Linked DNA regions of Homo sapiens. The protein of the gene in region 3 purifies or fractionates together with the protein of the main gene of each other region. This does not show direct contact. Each region holds a gene or a part of one and is shown on either strand. Other genes may lie near its edges.

Region 1 (4,280 bases), on a different chromosome or scaffold from region 3:
TGAAATTGTAAAGAAGGAAAAAGAAATTTGTGCCAGTTTTGCTGTCACACCTCGAACTGCAAAAGGTACCGCCACAGCGCACGCTAAGTGCTTAGTTAAGATAGAAAAGGCATTGAATGTGTGGGTGGGAGACATGAACAGAAACACGTTCCAGTTGACAGCAACTGGACCCAAGCTATCAGGAGGTCAGTGCTATCTTTGGTTTCAGGCATCCACTGTGGGTCTTGGAACACATGCCCTGAAGATAAGGGGGGACTACGTATGAATCTCCCATGTGGGCCTGAAGAGAGGCTGAGACGCAGAGAAGGCTCCATGCCTCTCCCAAAGTCAGAGCGTCGGGAAAGGACCACCTCACCAGGCCAGGAGAGCTCACGGGGGTCCCGTCCATCCCTCCTCCCACAGCAACAGCAACCTCCATTCTGTGGTTCCACAAATCCTTCTTCCTTTGTTTGTATTTTTGAGACGGAGTCTTGCTCTGTCGCCCAGGCTGGAGTGCAGTGGTGCGATCTCGGCTCACTGCAAGCTCCGCCTCCCGGGTTCACGCCATTCTCCTGCCTCAGCCTCCCGAGTAGCTGGGACTACAGGTGCCTGCCACCACGGCCAGCTAATTTTTTTTTTTTGTATTTTTCGTAGAGACGGGGTTTCACCGTGTTAGCCAGGATGGTCTCGATCTCCTGACCTCGTGATCTTCCCGCCTCGGCCTCCCAAAGTGCTGGGATTACAGGCGTGAGCCACCGCGCCCGGCCTCCACAAATCCTTCTTGCAGCTCCTAAAGCCTAGAGTTTGAGCTAAAGCACCAGCTCCACTTGCCTCTAGGTACCTCTAGAAGGTACTTCAAGGCTTGGGAAAAAGCATGGAGATTTCTCTGTTATCTCAAAGGCTGAGTGGAAGAAACAGGAAAGTCCCAGTCCATCTCTGAGTGCCATGGCACTGATAGTGTTAATAATAATAAAACAGTCCCCACTATGCTACACTCGCTATGAGCCAGACACTGCCCTAAGCTCTATATATGCATTATTTCATCTGATCTTCTAAACAACCCTATAGGTGAGGTATTATTAAATTCCTCATTTTACAAATAAAAAGGCCCGGCACAGTGGCTCATGCCTGTAATCCCAACACTTTGTGGGGCCGAGTTAGGAGGACTGCTTGAATCCAGAAGTTTGAGGGCAGCCTGGAAAACATAGTGACACCCTGTTCTCTGTAAAAAAAATCAAAAAATTAGCCGGGCGTGGTAGCACACGCCTGTGGTCCCAGCTACTTGGGAGGCTGAGGTAGGAGGATTGCTTGGATCCAGAAGATCACGGCTGCAGTGGGCCTGGAGTGACAGAGCAAGACCCTGTCTCAAAAAAAGAAAGAAAGAAAGAAAGAAAGAAAAAGAAACAGGTGTAGGGCTGGACACATGGCTCATGTCTCTAATTCTAGTACTTTGGGAGGCCGAGGCAGGAGGATCACTTAAGCCCAAGAGTTTAAGACCTGCCTGGGAAACACAGGGAGACACCATCTCTACAAAAAAATACAAATAAAAATTAGCTGGGTATGGTGGCACACACCTGTGGGCCCAGCTACTCAGAAGGCTGGGGTGGGAGGATCACTCCAGCCTAGGCAACAGAGTGAAACAGAGTGAGACCTTGTCTCAAAAAAGAAAGGACAGAAAGACAAGGGAGAGAGGGAGGGAGGGATAGAGGGGGAGGGGAAGAGAGAGAGAGAGAGAAAGGAAGGAAGGAAGGAAGGAAAGAAAGGAAAGGAAAGGAAAGGAAAGGAGGGGCTCAGAGGGAACAAGTAACTTATTACAAGTTCAGGGTGGTTGTAAGTAACAGAGCTGAGATTTGAACCGATATCTGTCTGTTTCCAGAGCCTGAGGTCTTCAGAGCCCACCAGGAGGACTATAGCTGAGAGATCACTCCTCCTCCCAAGACCTTGGTCTCTAGGGTCCTGCAGCAGGGATGAGGCCACTGCGCCTGCAGCCCCACTCAAAACCCTCTGGGACACCACGCCCCTGGCTTCCGCTCCTGCCCTTACCTCTATCTGGTCAATGGTCTCCTGATACTCCTTCTCCCGGGTTTTGAACAGGGACTCCGTATCTTTAATCACCTTCTCCAGGCTATCTTCCTGCTGCTGGAGTAGAAAGGGAAGCGGGGGAGGCCAGCCAAGGAGGGATGGGATGGGACGCATTCCAAAGGGCCAAGTCAGGGAGAGAGAGAGAGAGGAAGTCTGGTTAAAGAAACTGGAGAAAGAAAAGCAAAAGGATAAAGGAAGAGGGGAGACGCAGGTAGAGGATGACAGCCACATGGGGGGACAGAGCAAGGAGAGGAGCGGGGGAGTGGGCTTCAGGCTGGAGAGGCAGAGCCAGAGGGCCCTGAGGCCGGGAGCAGAGGTTACCTCTCCCTGGGCCTCTGCAGCTGCCATGGCATAGCCTGAGAAATCCTCCCAAAGCAGCAGGGTCTCCTCAGTCTCCTCCCAAGTCAGGCTGTCACAGTCGTCCTCAAAATCATACTCCCTCCTAGAGACAGGGAACCCGGGTGTCAGGGCGGGCGGGGCCTCGTCCTGGCGGGGGACTGGGGAGCTCCGGCCTCCTGGGCTGCTGTGGCGTCGGTGCTGCGGGAGCACGGCCTGCGGACTCACAGCTGGTTGAGCATGCGCTGCATCTCCTCGTTGATGCTGAGGGCTGTGCTCTCCTCCTCATCCCCATCGGGCTGGCGGGGCCCCTCACTCTCCGACAGGGAGGTGTCCTCCTCGACGGCAGCCTTGCGCTCCCGCTTCCGCCCCCCCATGGATGGGACCTTAATGGGAGACAAGTGCAGAGACTACAGAGACGAGGCCGGGTGCATGAGGAGAAAGGGCGGGAGCGGGAGGCCGGGCAGAGAGGGTGGGAATGGGGGAGAAGCATGAACCAGTAGGAAGGGGGGGCAGACAGAGAGAAAAGTCACAGTTACAATGACAGGAACAGAAACACGGACAGTCACCAAGGGCCAGACACACAGCGGGGGTCAGGGCTGCAAACCGAGAAGGCAGAACAAGAAGAAATCGAGAAGAAGAGCAGTCAGACAAGGAAGGAAGGGCTCGCTGGGGCTGCAGTCAGATGTGCATGATGGCTCAAGAGGAAATTTTTTTCTAAAAAAAGTCTTTTTGATTAAATGACTCAACTAAAAAAAAAAAAGCTTTAGGACGCAAGGAGGATGAGTGTGCAATGTGTACAAAAGAGAACCTGAATCACATCCAGATCTGGAAAGCCGGGGGAGAAGGGAGAGAAAGAAATGCAGTCAAGAGAACAAGAGATAGAGAGAAAAAGGGGGAAGAGCAAGGAAAAGGGAAAGGGCAGAAAAAAATCCGTGCTCAAGAGCCCAGCGGGCCCAAACTGAGGGCCAGGAGGCCTAGGCAGCTTAGAAACTGGGACTGGGACATTAATAAGCTTGCGTGAGATCAAACTAACCAGCTTCTTCTGTGGAGGAAGCAAGAGAGAAGATGAGAGGAAGAGAGGAGAGGAAGCAGACAGAGGAGAGAGAGGGGGAAGGGAGAGACGGCGTTAGAGACAGCTTCCACGATGCCCCTCCTGATGCTGCTCCTTACCCCCCAGTCTAGCCCCGTGAGGGCCCCAGTTGCCAGGTAAGGCTCCCCAAGCAGGAGGCAGGGCCTGCGTTCCAGGCCAGCCGCCACGGAAGCATCCACCTGCCCCACCCACCCCTGAGAGCAGAGGGCAGCTCCGTCCTCACCTGGAACATCTGGATCATGTCCTCGCAGTTGCGCTGCTGAGCCACATCGCAGAGCTTGGCGGTGATGTCGATGCGGCGGCAGATGTCCATATCCACCTTCATGGCTTTCTCCTGGATCTTGGTGTCCAGCTCCGACAGGTTCTGTCCAGGGAGCCCAGGGAACAGTGAGGAGGCGCCCAGTTCTCCAGACAAGGACGAATTAGGCCTGGCAAGGTCCTCATCCTTCCCACCACATTGCACCGGTGCCTCTTCTGTGGAGTCTCCCTGAGCTGACTGCACCCCTCTTCCTGGGTAGCGGTGGCCTCCCCACAGCACTGTGTGAATATGCTGGGCATGGGGCGGCTCGGGCCACTGCTCCCTGGCCAAACGGAAGCCCTGGAGGGCATGGCCAGTGCCTGGGACATGCAGGGGGCTCACTGGAACGACTAGCGGTCCTCATCCTCCTAGAACTTACATTCCCAGAGAGAAAGAGACTCCTGGGAATTATAAGAGTGGAGAAAGGACTATAATAATCGCAACAGCTAACACTCTTCCAGCTAACACTGCATGCTGGGCACTGTCCCGAGT
Region 2 (4,280 bases), on a different chromosome or scaffold from region 3:
CACTTCCCACTTGATCTAGGCTTTGGCTCTGGTTACCTTTTTGCTCTCGGAAAGTCTGAGGGGGTTATTTTCTTCGGGACTTTCAAGGGAAGAGTCGGCGTCATCCTCCTCCTCTTCACTGTCTTCTTCCTTCTCCTCTTCCTCTTTGTCCTCTTCATTTTCCTCCTGATCTTCTGTGGATTTAGCTTCCTCAGGATCTGCTGGCTCAGCAACTAGCTCATCCCCACACTGCTCCTTTGCTTCCTCTTTCACTTGCTTTTTTTCCTCCTCCATCTCCTCTTTCTTTTCCTCCTCTTTTGCTAGTCCATCTAATTTCCTCTGGCTGGCCTTGTAGTACAGCACTACCTCCAGACTCTGTGGGGTGGGAGTAGGGCAGGATGGCGGCTGCGTTACCTGTGAAGCTCCTAATCTCATGACAATGCTGTACTAGCTCCAGGAAACATGACTTCCAGCATGTCAGAGTGCAAGGGTGTGGCCCGGTGCTCTGGGACTGTGAGCCAATCCCCTGAGCATATGTAGAGGGCATCACACCTCACCTCTCAGGGCCACTATGTCTGTTGGCCATTAAGCCATTTCAAACAGCTACCACAACTAAAGAGTCTTGGGCTCTGCACCTAAATTGTTGCTTCCCACCCCTACAGTGACTCTTCTTTTACCCAATCCTCTTTCACTTATTAGTACATAACTACTTTGAACAAATTCCTCCCTCTTCATCTATTTGGTTCTTCTCTTGGGCATGTAACCCAGGAAGAACAGGAGCCCCAACAAATGGGGCTGGGCAAACTGAAGGAGTTGTCCAGCCTAGGGGCTGTGGTCCTTTGGGGCTGCACCTCCCGATGTGAGTTGTCTGTGTTCCACTCTCCCCATAACTTCACAGGAAAAGGGAGCACCCACTTTCCATTAAGATGGGAACCACTGTAGACACTTCAGAGATCCCAGAAGCTTCTCTACAAATCCCTTGCCTGGTTGAAAGGGTTGTGGAGGCAATGCTTCTTCCCAGGATCTCCTCCTCCTTTCTGCTTATCTGGCTACCAAGGTTACTACTCACCTTTCTGGTCTCAAGGTCGCTCTCAGAAGTATCCGAGCATGGCTTGGTCACCTTTTTCATTTTAACCCCATTGGCATTCTTGTTCATGTTCTTATTAGCATTCTTCCCCCGGGCTTCTTTGACAACAGAAGGCCTCTTCTCCCTGAGCTGGCGGAGCTCCTCCTGGCAGCACTGCAGCTGCCCCTCCAGCTGCTCCTGCACTACCAGAAGCCGCCCCTGCTCATCCATGCTAGCCTGGTATTGCAGCTGCAGCTCCCGCAGCTTGGTCTGCAGTTCTTTGATCTGTTGGTAGTGGAGGGCCAGTTACCCAGAGTTGGCTGGTTATGCAACCAGTTGGCTGACCACGCAACCAAACTCAGCCCTGCTTGGGGGTCACTGTCTCAGAAATCTCCCTGTTAAAGCCCATAGGAAGTAGACAATAAAGAAAATATTCAACGGTGGAAAATGAGCCTCTCAAATAGTTTTACAAATAGCTTCTCCTAACTTGAGGCACCTGATGATGTCCATCTAATAAGATGAAAAAAACGGCAGGGCGCAGCGGCTCACTTGCCATCCAGTGTAATCCCAGCACTTCAAGAGGCTGAGGTGGGCAGATCACTTGAGGTCAGGAGTTCGAGACCAGCCTGGCCAACATGGTGAAACCCCATGTCTACTAAAAATACAAACATTCGCTGGGCTTATTGGAGCGCGCCTGTAGTCCCAGAAACTTGGGAAGCTGAAACAGGAGAATCACTTGAACCCAGGAGGCGGAGGTTGCAGGAAGCTGAGATCGTGCCACTGCACTCCAGCCTGGTGACAGAGCAAGACTCTGTCTCAAAAAAAAAAAAGAAGGTCAAAACAATGATTTAAATGGTGTTTTCTACTGTGACTGGGGAATAACAATAGGGCTGCTACCAATTCTGAACCTCAGGGATTTATTATATAATTCTTTTTTTTGAGACAAGAGTTTCACTCTTGTTGCCCAGGCTGGAGTGCAATGGCATGATCTTGGCTCACCGCAACCTCCGCCTCCTGGATTCAAGCGGTTTTCCTGCCTCAGCCTCTTGAGTAGCTGGCATTACAGGCATGCGCCACCATGCCCAGCTAATTTTGTGTATTTTTAGTAGAGATGGGGTTTCTCCAAGTTGGCCAGGCTGGTCTCAAACTCCTGACCTCAAGTGATCCACCCGCCTCGGCCTCCCAAAGTGCTGAGATTACAGGGGTGAGCCACCGCACCTGGCCTAGAATTCTTTTTATGGGAACTCCTACTTCATCCAACCCATCTCTCTAACAGGAACAATTACTTAAAGAACTGTGTTGTACACTCCTGAAGTGTGTACTGGGCTCCTGCACCTCACCCTGGAAACAGAGGCAAGTCACATCCTGCTCCCTGATCTCGGGTTTTGTCTTCCTTGGCTGATGGCAGCACACAACCATCCCCTCAGTAGGTACCAATACTAGCCAATCTGGACCCATGTGTTCGCTGCTCTCTGAATCTCTCCCGTGTGTATACAAAGAGACCCCCACTGGACCGTGAACCCCTGGCCAGAGACAAGACTTCTGTCCCATTCCTAGGGGGTGCAGAGCACTCTTCTTGGCATTGTGAGCGATCCAAAAGGAGACATGTCCCTGTCCTTGAGCTGCTTGCAATCTAGTTGGTGCTCCTAGTTGGTGCACCGGGAGACAAGGCAAATGCACACAAAATGATGAAAGAAGATTGGCAAATGCAAAAATACAGTTCTACAGAAGTGGTCTAGAACACAAAGCAAAAGAGAACAGAAGTGGCAAAGGGAGAAAGAGAGAAATCATTCGATGAGAGAAGTCCTGATGACTAGTAAACCCCAGCTCCACGGGCACTTGGGAAATGTCATCAGGGATGGAGCAGACTGCCCAGCCTCTGAGGTGCATATTCTCCCTGCTTTGTCCCTCTCTTTAGCCTCTATGAAGTGGCCATGACCTCTATGGCTCCAGGGGCTGCCAGAGGAAACCCTGCCTCCCTGACAGTGGTTACCTCATTCTTGTCGTTCTGGGGGGCCATGGGCTTTTCAAGGCATTCCATGCACTCCTTGAACTCCCTTTCACAGGCATCCAGCTCTTCCTTCAGGTCTTTCTGCTTGGCCAGTAACTTTTCCATCTGCTCTTGCAGCTGGCTGTGTTCCTCCTGGCTTATCTGGTACATGGCCTGCACCGCCTGCAGCTTGATCAGCACTTTCACAACCATTTCCTCAAAGCGCTGCGGGGGGTGGGGGAGCAACAATAGCACCCTGAGGAGCACCTAAGCTCCGCCCTACTCTGCTGGGCCCTTCCCTGGATACCAAACAATGGCCACCAGGATCCAGAGATGCCCGCGGGGGATTACTATATTTACCCCCATAAAGAGCATCGTGGCTGTGGTGAGGAAACGGACTGAATCTTATGGGCCTCTGTCCAGATGGGGGATTCTCTCTATGAGAGGGCTGAGCGGGAGACCAGGCTGCCATGGGTAGAGGGCTTCGCTTACTTCCAATAGTTCCCCAGGTCAGTTCTGACCCCATTCCCACACTTCTTGCCCCTTCCCCTGGCGATGTATCTCTTAAAAAGACAAGAGTCCATCGTCCCCTGCCTGACCTGTCACCTGGCAACCATTACCTCCATGTCTTCAGGCTCAGCAGGTTCCTCGTCAGTGCAGCTGCTGACAAAACTCTTCTGGCAGGTGTCAGAGCTACTGGTGCTGCCGTAACTCTTCTTATAGGTAATGCTGCTGTTGCTGGTAGTGCAGTAACTCTTCCCATAGGCCTCACTGGCACTGGTGCTGCTGTCATAGCTCTTGAGAAAGCTCTTGCTGCTGGTCTGGGTGCTGGTGTAACTCTTGTAATAGCTCTCATTGTCATCCACAGTGGTATCATAAGTCTTGCGACAGTTCTCATTGCTGGGGACCATGCTACCATAGCTCTTCCCGTAGGACTCAAGGCTCATTTTTATAGAAGGGGACTGGACTTGAAGCAGCTGCATTTCTTCCAGGCAGAGCTGCAAGTCTGCCTGCAGCCTCTTCCGCTCCTCTAGGAGCCTCCCTTGCTCTTGCTGCAAGAGCTCCTGCTTCGCCTGACCGGCGTCATACATCACCTGCAGGGCCTGCATCTGCTCCATGAGCAGCTTGGATTGCTGGGGGCAGGGGTGGGGAGACAGTATCATTACTCTGACACTTCAGTCCTTCCAGCTGCACCTCTCCTGGTACAGATGTCTGAGAGCACACCTTAGAGAATGGCACACCTAC
Region 3 (5,490 bases):
GCAGCTCAGTCAAGACAATCATAATGACGACCACCATTCACACTGCCCTTCTCTGCACCCAGAGCTGTGATAAGCTATCAGTCCACATTACTCTCACATGGTCAGGGTGCTATGACCCCATTTACAGCTGAGGCAACTGGGGCCAAGCGGGGCACGCAGAGCTCAGAGCATGTGGGAAGGCTCAGGGGAGGCTGGAGGCTGATAACCAGCTGCTTTTCCTTTGCCTGCAAAAGCCCCACACCTGGTATAATGTTCTCAGTCCCCAGATGAGACCACAGTTCACAGCTGCCCAGAAGCAGCCTGCCCCAATTCAAAACTCTATCGGGATTTGAGAGAACAAAAAGGAAAATACTAAACAGCCAGACTGGCCCCTACTCTGAGGAAACAAGCAGGGAGAGAGGAAAAGCCCAAACAGCTGGCAGAACATAAAGGCAGCCCATGCAGGAAAGGCCCCACCAACTCCTGGGCACCTTCTGCCTGGAGACCATGTCCCCCAGGGACAAATCCCTGCCCTAGAGGAGTTTATGCTCCAGTGGGTCGTGGGAGGGGAGGTGCAATGACAACTATAACATTGACAACGGAAAATATTTATTTAGTGCTCGCTCTGTGCCAACCTTGCTCTAACTCACCTAATTTTCATGCCATGTGAAGTAGGTGGTATTATTTTCCTCATTCAGGAGGAAATGAAGGCACAGAGAGGTTAAGTGACTTACTCAAAGTCATACAGCTGGTAGATGGTAGAGCCAGGATTTGAACCCAGAAGCTGAAAACTTCTCCATCCCCATGCTGAGGACTCACACGCATTCCTCCTGCAAGAGATAAGGTTTACCCAGTTTACAGATCAGGGTGTGGAGGCCCAGAGAGGCACAGCTGCCCACCCTAGGTCTCGTGGCCAGCTGTCGGGGAGCGAGATCTAGGGTTAGCCTCCTGGCACTCCAACCTCCTCTCCCCACTGCCTCCTCTCCACATCCCCACTCCAGCAGCCCCAGGACAATCTGCCCCAGGACATGACAACTTCTCATTACTGTTACAAGCAACCAAGCCAGGGCCATCCTGGGGCATACCACTTTCCCCTGGCCCTGAGGGAGAAGAGAGGACAGGAAGCAACTCCCAGCTGGGTTGCTCACTTGCCCCACCTTGGAAGGATTTTCTGTGTCTCCAGAGGCAAAGTGGATTCGCTGGGCCCTCCCCAGCCTCACCCCTCTGCCTCCTCCCCTCCCTCTGCTCTCTCCGGGGGTCACTTGTACTCCAAGCGCTAACATGGAACCAGAGGGAGGAAGGTGCAGCGGGGAGAGAAGGGGATGGCAGCGGGACTGAAACTTGAGATCTTAGACTTGGGGGGCAGGGGATGGGGGTGGAGGGAAAGAGGGAGACCAAGACAGAGACAGGAAGGGAGAGTTAAGTTGCATTTGGTTTTCCAAAGCGGGCAGCATTGGAGCTTGGCGTTTGTGTGTACATGAATGTGTGTGCGTGTCAGCGTGCGTGTGAGTGTGTGCTCGTGAGTGTGTGCATGAGTGTGTGCGCGTGTCTGTGTGCTGTTTTCTTCCCTCCCCTCCAGCAGGGAAGCCAGGCCTCACTGGATAATCAGAGGGCTCAGAGGTGAGGCAGACAGAGCAAGGTTGGTGCACGCTTAGGGTAAGGGCGACGTGCCACCAAGACTGAGGAAGGAGGAAGGGAAGGAGTGAAGAATAGAGGTGAGAGGGTGTCGGGTGGGGCCGGAGGGAGGCGGTGAGAGGAAGCAAGCAGAGCAGCCGTGGTATTCAGAGCAAGTATAAATAGCTGCCTGGACAGAGCTCGGCCAGACAGAGGTTTGTAGCTGCAGCTGCAGGCAAGCCTGGCCACTGTTGGCTGCAGCAGGACATCCCAGGCACAGCCCCTAGGGCTCTGAGCAGACATCCCTCGCCATTGACACATCTTCAGATGCTCTCCCAGCTAGCCATGCTGCAGGGCAGCCTCCTCCTTGTGGTTGCCACCATGTCTGTGGCTCAACAGACAAGGCAGGAGGCGGATAGGGGCTGCGAGACACTTGTAGTCCAGCACGGCCACTGTAGCTACACCTTCTTGCTGCCCAAGTCTGAGCCCTGCCCTCCGGGGCCTGAGGTCTCCAGGGACTCCAACACCCTCCAGAGAGAATCACTGGCCAACCCACTGCACCTGGGGAAGTTGCCCACCCAGCAGGTGAAACAGCTGGAGCAGGCACTGCAGAACAACACGCAGTGGCTGAAGAAGGTACGGGGCATGGGAGGTTTGCAGGGGGCAGAGGGCGGCTTTGGGGTCTGTCACAATCAGCAGGTGGAGTGTCCATCCAAGAGGCCTTCCCTGAGCACAGAGGGCTGTCTCTGAGCTGCACAAAGAGGGGCAGGGGTGGGTCTGAGGCCACACAGCAAGATTGGGCAATGTCAGCTGGCAACCTGGCTCTTTAACTGCCGTCCCTTCATTCATCCAACAGAAATCCATTCAGCCCTGACCAAGGGCTGAACGGACCAAGCCTTCCTGGGTGCTGGGGATACGACAGTATAGTATGTCTCCCTCTGGACTAGTAGGGGAAAGAGGCAGTAAGAGATAATCTACTATGTCAGATGGTGAAGCAAAATGAAGAAGAAAGAGGGCAAGTGGCGGCCCTGGGTGGCTGCTTGAGGTCAGATCATTAGAGAGTACTTCTCAGAGGAGGTGACATTTGAACCCAGAGAACAAGGGAAATGATAGAGTGGGCCAGGCAGGTATTTGAGGGAACGTTCTGCAAAGGGAGCTGCATGTATTTTGACCGTGAGGAGGGAATGCATCCGCAGCGGTGTGTGCCTGGAGAACCATGGGGCGAAGGCCTGTGTAGCTGGAGCAGAGGAGAGGGAGCAAGGGTGCGGGGAGGTCTGAGAGGTGACAGCAGGGCAGGCCATGCAGCTGGGGGGGGGGCCACTGGAAGGACTTCAGCTTTTGTTCTGAGTGTCATGGGAGCCACTGCAAGGTTGTGAGCAGAGACAGACACCCGTGATTCGATTTCAACAGCATAGACTGTAGGAGGCAGGGTGGAAGGAAGAAGCCCAAAGAGGTGGCCGCTGCAGCCATCAGGTGCAAGGTACCGGAGGCCTGGAGCAGAACGGGGCTAGGAGGGGGTGTGGCCAGTAAGATTCTGGTGGGTTCTGGAGGTAGAGCCCATCAGCTCTGCTGGTGAATTGGATGCGGAGTGGGAGGAAGCAAGGAGCTGAGGATGCCACTGTGGTTTTGGCCCAAGACCAGGGCTGCTGTAGAATGCCCTGTCATGCTTTCGTCTTTCAGCAGTGTGAGCACCTATTGTGTACCCTCGGAGAAGCACTGACTACAGAGGTGTGCAAAGCAGGCTTGGCCCTGGCGGGGCATGAGGGTACAGGAGACATCCTGGGGGGTCTGAGATGGGACTCTTCAGAGTCCCTAAGTGAGAGCTACCAAGGAAAGGGAGAGGGACCCAGGAGACAGTCTGGGCGATGACTGAGGAATGAAGGATGCGAACTAATTCCTGGAGTTTTAGAAGGTATTAAACAGCAGACAAGCTTGACAACCACCTCTGGCTCCAGGCAGGATAGCTGTCCTGGCTGCCCCCCTGGCTCCCTGCTAACACTCGGCCCCCACCTCCTGTTCTCCATGCAGCAGACCAAAGAATCCCCATCAAAACCTAAGTTACATCCTCTCCCTCCTCCCAGGGCTAACCATGCATCCGAATAAAAGCAAGAACCCTTACTCCCTGGAGTTCCCTCTCCCAGACTCCCACTTTGCTTACCCCAGCCTCCTATCCTCTCCAGCGCCATCTCCCCAGAGGCCCTCCTTGTCCTCCCCGTACGAAATAACCACCTTCCTCTTCCACCCTTTGTCCCTCTGCTGGCTTTGTTGTGTTTTTTTTTCTTAGAACTTATCCCTACCTAATGTTCTTAAAAACATTTCTTTTGGTGTGTGAGCTCCCAGAGGGCAGGCGCCATGTCTCTTTTGCTCACTTCTGGGTTCCCAGGGCCTAGAATAGTGCCGAACACACAGTAGGTACTCAATAAATGTCTGTAGCATGAGTGAATGCATGAATGCATAAATGTCCTTCCAATCTCTCAGGTCCCAGGTCTCCATCCTGCTCCGTGATGACACAAAATTGGCATTGATGGGATCCTGAGCCCAAAACCCATGACCTGGATCTCCCCCAACACCTCCCTGAGGGTCCATGGGTGTCTCAACTCCAAAGCTGCCTGAGACGACTCCCTGCTCTTCTCCAAACACCCTCCTCCTGCCTGTCTGTCTCTGTTTAGGGTGACACCACCACCCAGCCACAGGCTGTGCCCTGGGGGCTTCCTGTGGCTCCCACCTATCCCCCAGGCAGCTGGCCCAGCCCATCCTGTGGCCTAGGCTTCTCTCATGGTCCATCTTTCTGGCTTAGGCCTCGTCATCTTTCCCAGGATGCTGTCATCACCTCCCACTGGGCCTCCTACCCCAAGTCTCACCTCTCACTCTCATCCATCTTTGAATCCCCTGGGTGTCGGATGCTTGGGAAACATTGGCTGAGAGCTGATGGCTTGAACTGATGGCTTGCAGGATCAGAAGGTCACCTGGTCCAGTGCCTCAGCTTGGGGTGGAATGTCCTCTCCAGGCATCCATTCACCTAGCCTGAAAATTCTGAGCTAGGGTCAGTCAGGTCACCGTAGAGTGCCGTAGGGCCTAAGATCTCTGATATGGGAGTTCAGCTGACCTGGCTGCAGGTACTTCCTTACCAAATGGCTACAGATGAGCAGGTTTCGGTCTCCCTTGGTTCATGTAAACAATAATTTCTCTCTGCCCCCTCTGACACTCCTGGTCCCCAGTGGGGAGTGCTTGCTACCTTCTGTGGCTGTGGCTGTGACCTTCCTCTGGTTCTTCTCTTGGTCCAGGCATATCTCAGATCTTCTGAAACTCAAAGCCTTTTTTTGGCTTTTTCTCTAACATCTCAGAAAAGTTAAAAAAAGAGTTTTAAAATACTCATCTAATGGCACCATCAGCATCATCATCACCATCATCACCATTGCCATTAGGGATGAACAAGCTCTCAGCAAGATTCTGTTCATCTAGACAGACACAGGGGAGATCCTTCCTGTCGCGAATCCCAGAAGCCATCATCTGCTCAGCCTGTGCCCCCAACTCCCCTCCTGTTCCCCCAGTGTACAGGTGAGGAAACAGGCCAGAGAGGGAAAGTGACTTGCCAGAGCCATGTAGCAGTGAAAGCCAATCTGGATTCTCACTACAAACTGCAGGTACTTTTTCCTGACTCTGGAAGGTGTCAAGGAGGCAAGGGAAGCAAGATCTAGAGAGGATGGGATGCTCTTGGTGCTCCCTTCTACTGCAGAGTTTCCAAGTCCCCAGATACGCACTCTTTCCTAGCATACAGCTTGCTGTGTCCTACTGCCAGTGCTCATCAGGCATGGGGAGAGCCCCGGCCTCACCTCTTCTCTCTCTCTCCTCTTTCATACTCTCCTCCTCCCCTGCACTCCCCTTCCCTTTCTTCTC
Region 4 (4,280 bases), on a different chromosome or scaffold from region 3:
CTAAGCAGTAGAAATGGAAACATTTTTCCACAAAAAGACTTGTACACAAATGTGCAGAGCAGCATTATTCATAAGAGCCAAAACAGTGGAAATAACTGAAATGCTCCTCAACTTGTGAGTGAACACCCAAAATGTGCGATATCCATGCAATGGGATATTATTTGTCAACAAAAAGGAATGAAATACTGTTACATGTTACAATGTGAATGAATCTCAAAAACAATAAGCTAAGTGACTGAAGGCAGACCCAAAAGGCCACATTTGTATAACTATTTATATGCAGCATCAAGAAAAAGCCACTCTATTTAGACAGAAAATATATTACAGGTTTCCTGGGGCTGTGGATAAGAACAAAGATCAACTGAAACTGAACAAAGAGCTAATTTTGGAATGATGGAAATTTTCTAAAATATTATGGTGATGATTGTACAACTCTTTAAATTTATTAAAACATGCTGAATTGTACACTTGAAATGGATGTTTCCTATGGTATATAAAATATAACTCAAATTATCCTGTAATGACCTCTTACTGCACCCAGAATTAAATCTAAACCTACAACTCCCACTAAACATAACTTCTAAGCATGCTCATGTTTTCCCAGAAAAATAAATGACTTGTCAAAAGGCTTACGTAGAGGGAATGGATTTTTTTAAAGTTTGCTGATTAAGGCAGCCAGGAGAAATGAGAAGGAGCTTAATGGCTTAATAATAAATAAATAAATAAATAATTTGTTGCATTTGAGGTAGATTGCCTTTACTATGGTCTTCAGGATTTGCATCTAATTCCCAGCCTTCCATTCTCTGTCCAGCAATTGAGAAGTTTGAGCTAAGATTAAATCTAAATAAAAGGCCCTTCCTCTCTCTAATCTACAAAGAGTGTCATGCCAGTCACTGCTTAGATGTACTCACAATACCAAATTCCCTCTTTACAAACTTCCATCAATCAAGCAGACTTAAAAATTGTATTAAGCAAGCACCATTTATCCAGAAGTGCGCTGGTTCTTGTGGATGAATGATAAGATCCCTTCCTTCAAATAAAATAACTGATTGAGATCCAATATAGAAAATGGAACAAATCATAACTGTTATGGTTAAAGTGGAAGTGGGACCCCCAGAGTCATTAATCTGTCCTCAAATTCAACCACCACCTGACTCTATCACAGTGGCCCTTTAAAACCCTCCTTAGAATTCCCTGGGCTCGTCAGAACATTATTTCAAAGTCACCCATGAAATCTATCCTCTTTATTTCAGAGGTGAATAAATAAAGGTCCAGGATGGGAAAGGGACTAGCACAAGGCACATAGTCATGGTCCTCTGGGTCCTCTAAAAAGTACAGATTTATGCATGAAGCAACTTGAAATCAGAGTAATTATATACACGAGGGCTTTCTAGACAGTGGCACTATGCCATATTTCTCTCTTTAACCTCCACAACACCTATCATTCTGCTTTGGCCATAAGCGGGGCTCAATCATTACATTTGGAATGAGAAACTACTGAATGGTAGGTAGTAAATCCAGGGGAGTGATTATAGCATCAGTAGCCTCAGAGAAGAAAAGACATTACCATGGGTGGCAAGGATTTCATTCATTTGGTTCATATTTATTAAGAATCTATCTAAGTGACAGGAACTGAAAGCAACCGTCTGTTAAGAAAGGCTTTATTTAATAACAATAGCTATTATATTTGTGGTGCCTACTATGTTCCAGCAACTGTATTAGGCACTTTTTATGCTATCAAAATTTAATCTTCATAAGAACCATATCGGCAGGTATGTTTCACTTTATTTTCACACATGAAGAATTTGAGGCTGAGAGAAGTAAAGTGACTTGCCCAAGAAGACAAATTCAGGAAGTGGAAAATCCAGCGTTGTAAATCTGATCACCTTTCCATCACAACAAGGAACTTTCATCATATGATGGATTTAAAGCCATAAAAACCAGGCCAGTAGGGTGAATTCTTGTCCTGGCTCAGTCATCAATTTTCAGGGTGAAATAGTGCACTTCATGGAATCTCTTGGCACCTTGGAAATTCTACCTGGAAAGTAGGACTCAGTGTAGCCTTGCATGGAATTGTTGGATGCTTCAATGAGATGAAATCTGTGGAATGTTTGGCCCTACAAGTGAGGAAGCCATCCAGATCATTAAAGATGCAATTTTATATATAAAATTTCCTAATGAGATTTTTCCAAGAGGCTAAAGCACAGCTAGTATGACTCGTGAACCACAGGGAAACCACAGGGTTTTCAGGGTACTTTAGGGTTTCTACAGTCACCAGGATGACAGTCTTAGGTAACTTTTGGACCAGTATTCCTGAGCTCCTGTCCTAGTCTGTTTGTGCTTCTATAACACAATACCACAGACTGGGTAATTTGTAAAGAACAAAAATTTATTTCTCCCAGGTCCGAAGGCTAGGAAGTTTAAGATCAATGTGCCAACAGATTTGGTGTCTGGTGAGGGGCTTGGTCTCTCCTTCCAAGATGGCACCTTGTTGCTGCATTTTCAAGAGGGAGTGAATGTTGTGTCTTCATATGGTGGAATCACAGAAGTACAAAAAAGGGTCTAAACTCATTCCAAGTCATTTTCTAAGGCACTAATCCATTCATAATGGCAGAGGCTTCATGACTTAATTACTTCCCGAAAGGTCTCTCCTCTTAATACCATCAAAATGGTAGGATTATGTTTCAACACATGAAATTTGGGGTACATTCAAATCATAGCAGACTGCTAGGCCACAGGTTCTCCAGACAGTCTCCTGAGCCAAGACTATAAAACATTCAGCTGGATACCTTCTTTTCAATGATTTCTTTCTGGCAAATATGGAAGAGGACAGGTGCAAAGAAGGAGAAGTTCTAGGGCCATGGATCATCCATTGCTGGGACAAACTTGGCAGGCTCATCTGTCACCCAGTTTCAGAGGTGACTCAGCCCCAATGCACACTCAAAAAGCAGGGTAGGACAGCTGGGACCTGTAGGCCTTGAAGATGGGAAAATTAGGTGAAAAGATACTGTTTACTGGAGATTGATGGAAAAGTGCTGGTATTTGTTAATAAGTTGAGGGGATGATGAGAAGTGGACAATTCCAGATTATATTGTATAGGTATAACTGGCCAGGTCTTACTAATGCAGTTGTTCTCCACATGTAGTCCCTGCACCACCAGCAGCAGCATTGCCTGGGAACTTGTTAGAAATGTAAATTCTCAGGCCCCACTCCATATCTACTGAATCAGAGACCCTGGAAATGGGGCTCAGCAATCAATGATTTAAAAGCCCTTTAGGTGTAACCTCCTGCATGGTCAAGTATAATAACCACTATGCTAATGGTGTGGATGGAGAGGGTCACATAAAAAGAGGAATAAAGAATGGCTTCCAGATTTCAGCATAGTGAGGCATTTACTGAGATGGGGAAGACTGGGAAATAAAAATGTTTAGGGGTGGGGCTGGAGTTGAGGGCCTGTTTGAGATGCCAGTGATACATGCAAGGGTGTAAGTTAAATGGGCAGTTAGATATGTGAGTCTGGAACTCAAGGGAGAGATCAGAGCTATTGACTTTGATTAGAAGATCCTTCTGATGGGTCTTATTTATCCTAAGTGATGGGCCACCAAAGGATAGCCCAGCCCTGATTATGGCCCAGATTTATGCTCAGTAAATGTCACTGAATGAACACAAAGGAGCTAGTTTTTCCTGCTTACTCCAGTCTGGTGAGAATATTGCCTAAGTACTAAGCATTCTTCCATGTAATATTTATTTGCTCAACTGGAAACAAAGCTACTGTCAGCAAAGTAGATTTCTTATAACAGTTCATTCTGATAACTTTCTTACATCTCAATACCAAATGCCAACACCTTTTCAGTCTCTCCTGTGGCCAGCATTGTTTGGCTTAATTTGCCCATCCACAAGTCCCAGAGGTTCCAGTTGTCCTGTGCCTTGGTCTTGAGTAAGCACTGGTTCTGAGTCAATCCCCAAGCCAGGTAACAGAGGAGCTTACCAAGACTGCCACACCAATGGCGGAAGGAAAGGAAGAAGGGAGGAAGAGAGGAAGAGAGGAAGGGAGGGAGGGAGGGAGGGGGGAAGGAAGGAAGGAAGGGAGGAAGGAAGGGAGGATATCAATTCAAAATTCCATCATTAGATGGGATAACTTGAGTGCTATAATAAATCTCCCTGTGGAGTCTGTGGTTGGGGTATTGTAATTCATTTTGACTGGGGAACTCGAGAAGGTTTTGGAGAAGACGAGGCATTTCATATGGGTCTTCCTTGAAAAATGAGTAGGATTTAGATGC

Evidence for each region. The genes of interacting proteins can lie anywhere in the genome.
Region 1: the proteins of ANGPT4 (region 3) and IFFO1 purify together in Homo sapiens (affinity purification with mass spectrometry; one large-scale study listed by BioGRID and IntAct). This does not show direct contact.
Region 2: the proteins of ANGPT4 (region 3) and CCDC136 purify together in Homo sapiens (affinity purification with mass spectrometry; one large-scale study listed by BioGRID and IntAct). This does not show direct contact.
Region 4: the proteins of ANGPT4 (region 3) and ZC4H2 purify together in Homo sapiens (affinity purification with mass spectrometry; one large-scale study listed by BioGRID and IntAct). This does not show direct contact.

The regions. Positions count from the first base shown.
Region 1 is NC_000012.12:6,546,043-6,550,322, forward strand, and holds part of IFFO1 (non-homologous end joining factor IFFO1), read right to left. Parts: intron 3,855-4,280; coding exon 3,714-3,854; intron 3,443-3,713; coding exon 3,434-3,442; intron 2,808-3,433; coding exon 2,626-2,807; intron 2,504-2,625; coding exon 2,383-2,503; coding exon of another isoform or gene 2,119-2,382; coding exon 2,023-2,118; intron 1-2,022. UniProt on the Homo sapiens protein: Nuclear matrix protein involved in the immobilization of broken DNA ends and the suppression of chromosome translocation during DNA double-strand breaks (DSBs).
Region 2 is NC_000007.14:128,811,688-128,815,967, reverse strand, and holds part of CCDC136 (coiled-coil domain-containing protein 136), read right to left. Parts: intron 4,169-4,280; coding exon 3,656-4,168; intron 3,261-3,655; coding exon 3,039-3,260; intron 1,331-3,038; coding exon 1,049-1,330; intron 355-1,048; coding exon 37-354; intron 1-36. UniProt on the Homo sapiens protein: May play a role in acrosome formation in spermatogenesis and in fertilization.
Region 3 is NC_000020.11:912,645-918,134, reverse strand, and holds the start of ANGPT4 (angiopoietin-4 isoform 1 precursor), read left to right. Parts: upstream 1-1,800; 5' UTR 1,801-1,920; coding exon 1,921-2,229; intron 2,230-4,454; exon of another isoform or gene 4,455-4,696; intron 4,697-5,490. UniProt on the Homo sapiens protein: Binds to TEK/TIE2, modulating ANGPT1 signaling. Can induce tyrosine phosphorylation of TEK/TIE2. Promotes endothelial cell survival, migration and angiogenesis.
Region 4 is NC_000023.11:64,966,451-64,970,730, forward strand, and holds part of ZC4H2 (zinc finger C4H2 domain-containing protein), read right to left. Parts: intron 1-4,280. UniProt on the Homo sapiens protein: Plays a role in interneurons differentiation. Involved in neuronal development and in neuromuscular junction formation.